Regions from separate parts of the Homo sapiens genome. Here regions 2, 3 and 4 are each reported to be linked to region 1. Evidence: microRNA targets listed by miRTarBase, many of them from high-throughput screens and not tested one by one. Region 1 holds a microRNA gene; each other region holds the end of a gene's coding sequence.

Region 1 (3,143 bases):
GTCCAGAGTTAAGTCACCTGGGTTGGGCCCATCCAAGGAAGTTTGATGTTTCTACTCTCATGAAAAGTACCAATGGCACTGCACAGTGATTATCTTAGATATTAAGGATAAACACAAATTTCTCCTTAAATTTCCATTTATTGGAAATGATTGGAGGGAGGGAACTTCTCCCTCACCTCCACACTGCCTCTTTTCCAACTCTTCTTCCAACACAAAATAGTTTAAACAGCAAGCACTTAGAGAGCTTTTAGCCTTGCTTGTTGATTACAAGGCCCAAGTTAGTGTATGGTTTGCCCATCGGAGGAAAGCTAAAACATGGGCCTTCATGGGTATTAAAATTGAAGAAACCTTTTCCAGCATTTTTTCTATTTTCTTTAAAGTAACAACCTATGGACTTCCCCATCTGACATTTTCGAGTGATCCCACTGTGTGAATGAAGGACTACTTCAGGGTTTGAGGGCAAAGCTGAAATCTTAGCAACTTACCAGTGAGCAAAGGTAGAACCCAGAGCCCATCTCTCCTTTTCCAGGCTGCTGAGTAAAGTCTGGCTCAATCAACCTATCAATGAAGCAGTGCTTACAACATTCTCCAAGACCACCCAAAACCCAAACTGGAAATGAATCATGACTAATCTGACTCATTTTGGCTCACACAGTGCCCTTCCAATTTGTATTTACCTTTACCACCCAGGACCTGACCTTGGACATGTGTACCAGGATGTAAGGCAATAAACCTATTCACAATTCCAAAAGGGCCTGGTCCTCTATGAAGATTTCCTGAAGGCTACTTACTTTCTCTACTCATTAAAATTTTTGCTTAACTTCAAATTTCTGAAATATACCATATGTGAAAAATTTAAATGTTAATCTGTGCCTACTGTACTACTTGAACAGAGAAAATTAACTGATAAACTGTAAATACAAAATGTCAAAATTAATTCTTCTGAGTTTTAATATCATCTAAATAAAAAGAAAATAATGCAGCAAGTCTACTCCTCAGGGAAGGCAATAGATTGTATAGTTATCTCCTGAACAGGGTAAAATCACTACCCCACAACTATACAATCTACTACCTCACTCTGATAGAGCAATGTTTTCTTCTGGAATGGAAAGTACAATCTCTTTCGAAAGAAAATTTCAACATAAAATTATCAGCATAAATCAAAATAAAAAAATACATTTATTCTGACACAGAGAAATAAGACAAGAAGCAAAAGGTTTCCCCACCCCCATCCAGTGTACTTGCTACAGACTTTATCTCTAAATTAATTTATTTCCAGGCCATAAACAAATGCTGCACTACATCTCTTTAAGACAAGTTAATCTTAAATATTGTACAATTAGTTAACTGACTTTCTATCAGACCGCCTGGATGCAGACTTTTCTATCACGTTAGGAAAGACAGTAGATTGTATAGTTATCTCCCAGTGGTGGGTGTGACCCTAAAACTATACAACCTACTACCTCATCCCACAGTGAAGAGAACATCCAGGGTGAATGGTGAAAAGGAATCACAGTTGAGCACCACAGGAAGGCTTTTTTTCCTCCTCGGTAATCCTGGTTTCCTGTGTGAGTGATAAGAAAAATAGTATTAGACCATTTTCATTCACTTACGTTGAAAATGAAGTTTAACTGAACATTTTGGCTACATGCATAATCTATGCTGTGGTTTCATTTCCTGTATTTCATTAATAGTATTTTAAATGCTTGGTTATCTGAATCCGCTCCTAAAACCATGTATTTACAAGATTCAGAAATCACCCTCTTACCACCACCTTTTACTATTATTAACTGCTGGTTTTCTTACAGTTCCTACAAATGAAAATGCATGAAATAACTTATCCTTCAAGAAACAACAAAAAATCATTACAGAAAAACATGACAGCCTCTAATTAAAAATCCAATGACTTCAAAACCCAAAAGTCCTGTACATCATGCATAATCCAAATGCACTAACATACAACGAGATAATATAAAAAACACACACAAATAGAAACTAATTTTTAAAGGAACCTACTCATTTATCCCATGCGAGCAAACACTAAGTGGTCTTATTAGGACTAAATCAAAGATAATCACCTGGATCTGATTCAGGGTCAGGATCCTTTCCTTTAGATAGAAAGGTAATATGTGGATTGAAGGCAGAGTCCAAAATCTTTAATAAACCCAAGTAATCTAAACTGTATTATTACCCTTTAATTTACAGACTTCATATTTAGGAGGTAGCTACTACGAAGATTATCTTTTAAGATAGGGACTAAATTTATTTTGTAGTGATTTAGTAACCAAAAGCACTAATTTTTAAAATTACAAAACGTAATAAAAAACATACGGCTCAATATAATAGAATTTAAAGTCTAGAAATAAACCCATACATGGGTCAACTGATTTTCAACCATGACAAGACAATTCAACTGGGAATCGTTTTTTCAACAAATAATGCTGACGGCTGTATAGCCACATGCAAAAAAAATGGATCTGCATTCTTTGTAAACTGGTGTGCAAAACACACATTAAAGTAACTTAAAACAACCTAATTTAATGGTAAAATATTTTAATAGATATTTCACCAAAGATATGACTCATAAGCACAAATGGCCAACAGGCACATGAAAAGATACATTATTCATTAGGATGGCTAATAAGATTAATAAAAGTGTTGACAAGGATGCGGAGAAAATTGGAACCCTTAGATTGCTGGTGGGAATGTGAAATGGTGCAGCTGCTTTGGAGAACAAAACTTGTAGACAAGTCAAACAGTTGTTAAGTGGAATCAGAAACACGTATTTCGTCTTTGTCTCCATTTGAAGATCCTGGCTGGCATACAGCTCCTAAAACCCTCAGAATTTCCTAAGTGATGAATGTCTGTTTAATGCTACTGAGTCGATTGGTGGCTCCTGTAGTTTCAGGAGGGGGATAGTCACCAGAAAGACCAAGGTGTGATTAGAGGGGTGGAACTTTCAGCCTCACCCCCTCAACCTCCAGGTAAAGCAGAGAGGACAGAGAGTAAGCCAATCATCAAAGGCCAATAATGTAATCAATCATGCCTAAGTATGAAACCTCCATAAAAACCCCTTAAGTGTCAGGGTTTGGACAGCTCTGAGTTGAAAAACACATCTTCATGCCAGGAGGCTGGTGTAACCC
Region 2 (3,143 bases), not on the chromosome of region 1:
ATTTCCAACTTGTACCTGTGTTTAATACTGCTTTAGTGTGCTAAAGACATTAACTGATTGCTTTCCTAAATCTAAGGATTATATAGTTTTAGTATAAATATATATCATATATTTTCGTAAAACTTTGACAAAACCAAATAAGCAAGCCTTGTTTTAAGTCCACGCTCCTGCCACTGTTTACAAAATTTGATTTAATGATCAAAAAACTATTGGTTGTCACTCTTCTGTTACAACAATCTTCCTTGTGAACTGCCACCCAGTTTTTACATAATAATAACAAGCAATAGAAAAACCAAAGAAATTATGTTAATCTTAGCTCTTCCTTTGCAAGTGTCTTTTCTTCTTACACCCAGTGCTTAGAAATAGGCACTCCTCAACCAGTGTTCACTGAATTCAACTGCTGAAATTGTAACAGTTAAATTATCAACACAACTCTTAATAAATAAACATTCCTTTGGGAAATTGTGGGAAATCAAAACACTTTTAAGTTTATACAAGTATTCATAAACATAAAATATTCTAGTTTATCCTAATGCCCTAGCTCTTATGAGTGCTATAGAGGCAATTAAAAAGGGAAAATTTCTTGAGTAGTTCACATGTGGAGAATTTGTTAAAACCGAAAAGCAGTCCAAAATTTTTAAAAGGCATACTAAATATTAGCTATACTCACTATTACATGGTATATAGCAATTTAGTAATTCATAGTACCACATATTTTACTTTAAAAGCAGGTCCCATATTAAGGCCTGCTTTTAAAATTGCCACTAAAAAGAAAATATTTTCAATTTGTATATTTAAACCATTAATTTAGATAACATCTTTTAAAGTCTACAAATTTAACATAGCCAAGAGTTGGTATTTGAGAAAAAGGTTTCAGTACAGGGTGTGAACAATGAAAAATTATAAAGGCATGTAATAAAAATGTTCCATAAAAACAAAGATACCTCAAGCAGGTCCACCTATACCTCTAGTTTAGTTTAGAAACTAATTCAGTATTTTAAGAATCATATAATTTTAAACTTTGCACTAAGCCTAACCTTTTTAAAAAATGGTCAGGGCCAGGTGCAGTGCCTCAAGCCTGTAATCCCAGTGCTTTAGGAGGCTGAGGTGGGAGGACTGCTTGAGTCCAGGAGTTCGAGACTGCAGTGAGCTGTGATTACACCACTGCACTCCAGCCTGGGAGAGCAAGAACCTGCCCATTAAAAAACCAAACAAAAATGGGCAGGTGTGGTGTCTCATACCTGAAATCCCAACACTTTGGGAGGCCAAGACAGGAGGATTGCTTGAGCCCAGGAGTTTGAGGCCAGCCTGGAAGCTACAGCGAGCCCCTGTCTCTATTATGTAAAAAAATAAAAATTTTTTTAAAAAAGAGGTTTTCTTATGTGTACCTGAAGCAAAGTAGTAAGTATATCTTTTCTTCTCCACGTTGTACAAGAGATGACTGTAAACACAAAATTAAAACTCATCTTAGGATCATGGTCCATCCACGAAGCTACTTTAAACTCTGATGATTCCAAGCAAGGAAGCAATATTTGCTTATTCAAAAAGTACTGAATATTCAGAGTAAGCAATATGCTAGATACTGTAACAATTTAAAAATACCAACACACATGTGTATTAAAAAGACACTGGCAGGCCGGGTGCGGTGGCTCATGCCTGTAATCCCAGCACTTTAGGAGGCCGAGGCAGGTGCATCACCTGAGGTCAGGAGTTCGAGACCAGCCTGGCCAACATGGTGAAATGCCGTCTCTACTAAAAATACAAAAATTAGCTGGGCATGGTGCCACACACCTGTAATCCCAGCTACTTGGTAGGCTGAGGCAGGAGAATCACTTGAACCTGGGAGGCAGAGGTTGCAGTGAGCCGAGATTGTGCCACTACACTTCAGCCTGGGCAACAGAGCGAGGCTCTATCTTAAAACAAAAAAAGGAAAGACACTGGCTTCAAATATACAATCTGGTAGAGGAATTAATATACGATTAGAGAACAAGTTTACCACCCTATACCACAAAACACTCTCATGGGTGTCAATTCTGAATATAAGGTTTGAAATCTCTTAAGCTTTTAAAAATACACATAACATTTAAGGCTTACAAAAAGGTTTACTAACATATTTTATAAAAATGATGCCATGTATCCTCCAGGTTAAGAAATGGTATCACTACTGTGAAGGTGAGTGGTTGCGGGGTAAAAAAAAAGAAAGAATGGCATCACATACCAGCTCCTGTAATATCATAATCCTATCAAGTACGGATTTGCAAAAATTTTCACTTTAGATATGAGGTAATTAATATGTTTTCTCCACACCCTGTCCTCACTTATCAGGTAAAAAGAATTTTACTCCTTTAAGATTAAAAAACAAGCATGCCTTCATTAAAAGAGATTAAAAGAAAAAAATCATCACGTCTTCTTGATTTATAAGTGGCCCCTAAGTCTTTTATTCTACTGCATTTACAAACTGTTCTTCTTGAAGTTTCAGTTTAAAGTCCTCTCTGATTCCTTCCAGTAACTCTGGTTTAAAAATAACATCCAGTGCCGTCATTGCCAGAGCTTTGGCCGTCCGCAGAGTGTAGAACTGAGCTTCCTGTGACCCTAAAAGGTAGAGAAAATAAAATACCTCCTTACTTATTTAAGCTGTATTTAATTTCACAGGTTAGCTACCCGTATCTCAACTGGCTCTCCAACTGCCCACCACAGTGCAGTATTTACTGAGGTGATGTTATGTAGTGAAATAGTAGGTTAAACAGAAAGGCAGCTACTACCAGAAGAAGAGTGTGTGTGCCAAAACAGTCACATCCAACAACACTTACCAGCAGCTTCAGTGTACTGTTCAGTATGATTCAAGGCATTAGATCCAATGTGAAAATATGGATGAATTCCAGGAACCACAAAACTAACATTTCCAAAATCCGTAGATCCTTGGAACACACAAAGTTAAGAAAAGTCTATTTAAGTATATGTGGTTAAGTATTCTGGAGTTATGAAGTCACAGTCCCTGTTAGAAGAGACGCAGAGAAGTGAGCTTCTTGGAGAGTTGTCCGTATGCTCATGCTTTCATGGGCTCACCTTCCACTGAGTCTGCCACCCACTCCCCTGTATCAGTCACATCTCTCATGAAGGTCACTGCAAACCTGCCCTCACCT
Region 3 (3,143 bases), not on the chromosome of region 1:
CGATCTCGGCTCACTGCCTCCTGGGTTCAAGTGATTCTGTCTCAGCTTCCCGAATAGCTGGGATTACAGGCGTGCGCTGCTACACCCAGCTGGTTTTTGTATTTTTAGTAGAGATGGGGTCTCACCATGTTGGCCATGCTGGTCTTGAACTCCTGACCTCAGGTGGTCCACCCGCCTTGGCCTGCCAAAGTGCTGGGATTACAGGCGTGAGCCACCACTCCTGGCCACTACTCTTCATTTAGTGTCTTCCTTAGCAGCGCTTGTGGCTGTCACTCCAGAAGGCATCCCCAGGCAGGCAGTGCTGAGGGCCACTTGGCCATGACAGGAGATCATGACGGGAGAACAGACGGGCAGGGGGGCGGTGGGGAAAGGCCACTGATGCTTTCTGTCTCCCAGGGCGGGGGCTGTCGGTTCCTGCGCTACAACTGTTCCATCCGAGCCCCAAGGAAGGGCTGGACCCTCATGCACCCTGGACGACTCACGCATTACCATGAGGGGCTCCCCACCACCAGGGGCACCCGCTACATCGCAGTCTCCTTCGTCGATCCCTAATTGGCCAGGCCTGACCCTCTTGGACCTTTCTTCTTTGCCGACAACCACTGCCCAGCAGCCTCTGGGACCTCGGGGTCCCAGGGAACCCAGTCCAGCCTCCTGGCTGTTGACTTCCCATTGCTCTTGGAGCCACCAATCAAAGAGATTCAAAGAGATTCCTGCAGGCCAGAGGCGGAACACACCTTTATGGCTGGGGCTCTCCGTGGTGTTCTGGACCCAGCCCCTGGAGACACCATTCACTTTTACTGCTTTGTAGTGACTCGTGCTCTCCAACCTGTCTTCCTGAAAAACCAAGGCCCCCTTCCCCCACCTCTTCCATGGGGTGAGACTTGAGCAGAACAGGGGCTTCCCCAAGTTGCCCAGAAAGACTGTCTGGGTGAGAAGCCATGGCCAGAGCTTCTCCCAGGCACAGGTGTTGCACCAGGGACTTCTGCTTCAAGTTTTGGGGTAAAGACACCTGGATCAGACTCCAAGGGCTGCCCTGAGTCTGGGACTTCTGCCTCCATGGCTGGTCATGAGAGCAAACCGTAGTCCCCTGGAGACAGCGACTCCAGAGAACCTCTTGGGAGACAGAAGAGGCATCTGTGCACAGCTCGATCTTCTACTTGCCTGTGGGGAGGGGAGTGACAGGTCCACACACCACACTGGGTCACCCTGTCCTGGATGCCTCTGAAGAGAGGGACAGACCGTCAGAAACTGGAGAGTTTCTATTAAAGGTCATTTAAACCACTGAAGGGAAGATGCTCAGGGCGAGTGGGTGTGTGTGTGTCTTGGTGTGAGTGTCTGCAGGGAGAGAGGTTTTAAGAGCCCTCTTTTTTTTTTTTTTTCTTTTTTTGAGACAGAGTCTCACTCTGTCTTCCAGGCTGGAGTGCAATGACGCTATCCCCGCTTTCTGCAACCCCCGCCTCCTGGGTTCAAGTAATTCTCCTGCCTCAGCCTTCCGAGCAGCTGGGGCTACAGGCACCCATCACCACGCCTGGCTAATTTTTGTTTTTTTATTAAAGAAAGGGTTTCACCAGGTTGGTCTGGCTGGTCTTGAACTCCTGACCTCAGATGATCCACCCACCTCGGCCTCCCAAAGTGCTGGGATTACAGGCATGAGCCACCGTGCCCGGCCAAGAGCCCTCTTTTTAGAGCCTTTAAGAAAGGTCATGCTAGCCTCTCGACCCCTGAGTAGCTGGGATTATAGGTATCCATGCCTGACACATTTTTGTATTTTTTGTAGAAACGGGGTTTCATTTCACCGTGTTGGCCAGGCTGGTCTCGAACTCCTGACCTCAGGTGATCCATCCGCCTCGGCCTCCCAAAGTACTGGATTACAGGCGTGAGCCACCATCCCAGGCCTGAAAGTCTTTTAAAAAAGATTTTTGAGGCCAGGCACAGTGGCTCACACCTGTAATCCCAGCACTTAGGCTGAGGCAGGCGGATTACCTGAGGTCAGGAGTTTGAGACCAGCCTGGGCAACGTGGCGAAACCCTGTCTCTACTAATAATATGAAAAAATCAGCCGGTTGTGTTGGCATGCGCCTGTAATCCCAGCTACTCGGGAGGCTGAGGCAGGAGAATCGCTTGAACCCAGGTGGTGGAGGTTGCAATGAGCCAAGATTGGGCCACTGCACTCCAGTCTGGGTGACAGAGCAAGACTCCATCTCAATTAAAAAAAAAAAAAGATTTTTTAGTCTTTTCATTTTCAAAATTGACTCATTGTAAATTCAAACAGCACAAATCTTAATCTTTCTGTCATCCTTTCCCCCCAGCTGCTCAGTTCCTCTCTCTGAAAGCCACCATGTCTAATCTGTTTTTTGAACGTTCTTGAGCTGGTTTGTGCCGACACAAGCCTGTGTGTGTGTTTGTGTATGTTAGGGTTATTTTTGTTTTTGTTTTTGAGATGGAGTCTCACTCTGTCGCCCAGGCTGGAGTGCAATGGCATGATCTCGGCTCACTGCAACCTCTGCCTCCCGGGTTCAAGCAATTCTCGTGCCTCAGCTTCCCGAGTAGCTGGGATTACAGGCACCCGCCACCACGCCCAGCTAGTTTTTGTATTTTTAGTAGATATGAGGTTTCACCATGTTGGCCACGGTGGTCTCCAACTCCTGACCTCAGATGATCCACCTGCCTCGGCCTCCCAAAGTGCTGGCATTACAGGTGTGAGCCACTGTGCCCGGCATAGGGTTGTTTTTAACTGTTAACTTTTTTCTGATTACAAACTCATCTTCACCATGAAAAAGTCAAACAAAATAGGTAACATGGGGGGCCGGATGCTGTGGCTCACATCTGTAATCCCAGTACTTTGGGAGGCTGAGGCGGGTGGATCACTTGTGGTCAAGAGTTTGAGACCAGCCTGGCCAACATGGCAAAACCCCCATCTCTACAAAAAAATACAAAAATTAGCCAGGTGTGGTGGCAGGTGCCTGTAATCCCAGCTACTTGGGAGGCTGAGCTGGGAGAATCACTTGAACCTGGGAGGTGGAGGTTGCAGTGAGCCAAGATTGCACCACTACACTCCAGCGTGGGTGACAGAGCAATAACCTGTCAACAACAACAACAACAAAAAGTAATATGGACCGGGTGCAGTGGCTCATGCCTGTAATC
Region 4 (3,143 bases), not on the chromosome of region 1:
GCAAGATGCTCCTCACTATATATATATATTTAATTTTTTAATTGAAATATTTTATCCACTACTTAAAAATTGTACAAAGACATAGGATTTAAATTTAATAGTAATACTAAGTAATTTATTACAAATTAGCTAATAACTCTTATATTTGTTTGCCACTTTTTGATTTTCCCTGGTGCTTGAATATATCTCTCTTGTTTGATCTTTACTAACAGAGAACGAGCAATCCAAGAGATGCGTCGACATGGTCTTGCTACACCACCCCTTAGTTCCACTCTGAGGTCTCCTTCACATTCTCCTGAACATAGAAATGTGTAATTATCAGAAAGGTATGTATGTAACACCAAGGACAGGCAAAACTAATCTGTGGTTGTAAAAATTCAGAAAGTAGTTTTCTGCATCAGGAAAGGGGAGATTGCCTGGTAAGGCGTTCAGGAGAACTTCCTGGAGTAATGGAAAAGTTCTATATCTTGGTGATAGTAGTTATGTGGGTATATACAATTGTAAAAATTCATAAAACTGACCATTTACAGTGTATGCTTTTTTTTTTTTTTAAGAGATGGGGTCTCGGCCAGACACAGTGGCCCACACCTGTTATTCCAGCACTTTGGGGAGGCTGAGGCTGGAGGATCACCTAAGGCTAGGAGTTTGAGACAAGCCTGGGCAACACAGTGAGACCTCCACCTCTACAAAAAATACAAAAATTAGCCAGGCATGGTGGCACACACCTGTAGTCCCAGGTACCAGCTGCTGGGGAGGTGGGGGAGGATACTGAGGCAGGGGGATGGCTTGAGCCCGGAAGGTTGAGGCTGCAGTGAACTGTGATTGCACTATTACAGTCCAGTATGCATGACAAAGCAAGCAGCTATCTCCAAAAAAACAAAGAGTTCTCACTATCTTGCCTGGGCTGGCCTCAAACTCCTGGGCTCAAGCAGTCCTCCCACCTCAGCCTCTTGAGTAGCTGGGACTACAGGCTGGTCCATGCATTTTATCGTATATAAATTATACCTGAATTTAAAAAGAGAAGACATCTACAGCATAACGTTAAATGACAATATGAGCTATCACAGGATATTATTTGATGAAGGGCTAAATTCAGGCTACAAATAATAGGTAGTAAAAATGTAGACAAAGCATAGAAACAGTAGTACACATGGTACAGTAGTAACCTGGCAGGAAGGGCAGGCTGTGGGGGAATAATGAGGGAGAGAGGTTTGGAAGGTAGAGTGGGATATATAGAGTATTATATTGAATGTGAAGCTAAATTAGAGATTGTGGACTTTATTCTGTAAGTCAAAAGGAACGTGAACGTCAGTCCTCCTGTGTATAGGATGGGTACAAGGGAAGGGTCAAGATGAAATAACTGTTTCTGGTAGATTAATTTCACAACTGTGTTTGAACCATATTGGAAAGGATAGGAACTAGAGGTAGAGAGACCAGTAAGTGGTATGAAATGAGCAGTATAATAGTTCAGGATTAGTATAATAACATTGAAAGCTAGGACATAATTTTTAAAGTAAACCATGAAATATATACAGAAAGGTACCATATCATAGATACATAGTTCAATGAATTTTTTCAATGAACAAATTGAACACATCCAGGTAACCTGCATGAAAATCAAAAAAAAAAAAAAATAGGCCAGGCACGGTGGCTCACACCTCTGTAATCCCAGCACTTTGGGAGGCCGAGGCGGGTGGATCACTTGAGGTCAGGAGTTCAAGACCAGCCTGGCCAACATGGTGAAACCCCGTCTCTACTAAAAACAGAAAAATTAGCTGGGCATGGTGGCACGCACCTGTAGTCTTAGCTACTTGGGATGCGGAGGCAGGAGAATTGCTTGAACCCAGGAGGCAGAAGTGGCAGTGAGCCCAGATCGCGCCACTGCACTCCAGCTTGGGTGACAGAGTGAGACTCCATCCAAAAAAATAAAATATAAAGCCTGGCACAGGAGACTGAGGTTGCAGGACTACTTGAGCCCAGTTCAAATCCAGTCTGGACAACAAAGCAAAACCCCATCTCAAAAAAACAAAACAAAAACAAAACAAAACTAACTTCTCTTTGGCGTCAGTCATAAGCCCTGGTCTAAAAGTAACTGTCCTGACTGTTAAAAGTGTAGATTTCTTTTTGCTTACTTTTAGACATTTTATAAATGAAATCATGTTCCTGGCTTCTTTTTCTCAACAGTACATTTGTGAGATCCATCCATATTGTTGTGTGTACTTGTAGATTGTTCACTCTTGTTGCTGTGTATGGAATGCCATTATGGAAACTTACTACAATCCAATTACTCCTCCTTCTGTTCATAAGCACTTGGCAGTTTCCAGTTTGGGCTATTACAAATAGTGCTATGGTTATACTTAGAAGTGAAATTGATGGATCACTGGATATGTGTATGTTCAAGCTCTAGGAGATATGGTAAACTGTTTTCCAAAGTAGTTGTAAAGTGCCAGGATGCATTTGACTGAGGAAGGATCAAAGGGATGTGCTGATTCACTGGAGATGGGAATGAGTGGGAAAGAAACATGAGTCAGACCCAGGCTTTGACAGGTAGTGACTGTGGAAAATGCATACTCATTGACAGAAATAGTTATGCCAGTCTTGTTTAAATTGATACATTTCTTTGCCTCTTTTGATAGAAATATATAGAAGATAATTAAACATTTCCTCTGACTCAGAATCCTCATTGTGAACATTAGTTATGTGCTATTCTTTGACGTACTGATGCCCTCAAGTTTGTAGGGCCTTGGTTTAAATGATTCCTGATTGCTCTGCTTCTGCTTTTGTGTTTGATTAGGGCATTTATTTTTCTCTTTCACTTTGAGGACCACTTCTCAGTGTTCACTGTAGTCACTGTGTCCTTCTTGAATTGCTGTGTTATTTTCATGTGATCAGATGGTGGTTCACCTTCTTGTTACAAAGGATTGTAAGAATGTGACACAGACATTTTCTCATGTTTGATTCACAGCTGCAGTTTAGATCAGGGGTTGGTTGGTAAACTAGGATCTGCAAGCCAAATCCATACCACTGCCTATTAGTGTAAATTAAGCTTTATTGGAGCACAGCCACACCCATTTGTTAACAGATTGTCTAAGACTGCTTTACTACAGTGGCAGAGTTGAGTAGTTTTGACAGACCCCATGTCC

The links. The annotated mature microRNA hsa-let-7a-5p reads UGAGGUAGUAGGUUGUAUAGUU and lies in region 1 at 1,446-1,467, opposite strand. An mRNA with a match to its seed (bases 2 to 7 or 8) in the 3' UTR can be bound and repressed. Matches are read on the target gene's strand: a 7mer-m8 pairs with bases 2 to 8, a 7mer-A1 pairs with bases 2 to 7 and ends in A, and an 8mer does both.
Region 2: the mRNA of PM20D2 is a reported target of hsa-let-7a-5p. Seed matches in the 3' UTR shown: 7mer-A1 at 2,280-2,286.
Region 3: the mRNA of PLOD1 is a reported target of hsa-let-7a-5p. The part of its 3' UTR that is shown has no 7-base or 8-base seed match.
Region 4: the mRNA of CEP135 is a reported target of hsa-let-7a-5p. The part of its 3' UTR that is shown has no 7-base or 8-base seed match.

Annotation. Positions count from the first base shown.
Region 1 is chr9:94,174,286-94,177,428 of GRCh38, reverse strand. MIRLET7A1 (microRNA let-7a-1) reads right to left here and starts at 1,472; the gene lies at 1,393-1,472. MIRLET7A1HG (miRlet-7a-1/let-7f-1/let-7d cluster host gene) reads right to left here. Exons shown (of 5, transcript NR_170278.1): 2 at 1,464-1,564. MIRLET7F1 (microRNA let-7f-1) reads right to left here and starts at 1,082; the gene lies at 996-1,082. It overlaps LINC02603 (long intergenic non-protein coding RNA 2603), which reads left to right. Exons shown (of 3, transcript NR_160773.1): 3 at 1-860.
Region 2 is chr6:89,161,558-89,164,700 of GRCh38, reverse strand. PM20D2 (peptidase M20 domain containing 2) reads right to left here. Exons shown (of 7, transcript NM_001010853.3): 6 at 2,811-2,918; 7 at 1-2,592. The coding sequence ends at 2,438. Among named protein-coding and RNA genes, the nearest start is that of PM20D2, 17 kb to the right of the region's middle.
Region 3 is chr1:11,974,257-11,977,399 of GRCh38, forward strand. It overlaps PLOD1 (procollagen-lysine,2-oxoglutarate 5-dioxygenase 1), which reads left to right. Exons shown (of 19, transcript NM_000302.4): 19 at 397-1,281. The coding sequence ends at 552. Among named protein-coding and RNA genes, the nearest start is that of MFN2, 4.6 kb to the right of the region's middle.
Region 4 is chr4:56,024,289-56,027,431 of GRCh38, forward strand. CEP135 (centrosomal protein 135) reads left to right here. Exons shown (of 26, transcript NM_025009.5): 25 at 213-326. The coding sequence ends at 315. Among named protein-coding and RNA genes, the nearest start is that of CRACD, 23 kb to the right of the region's middle.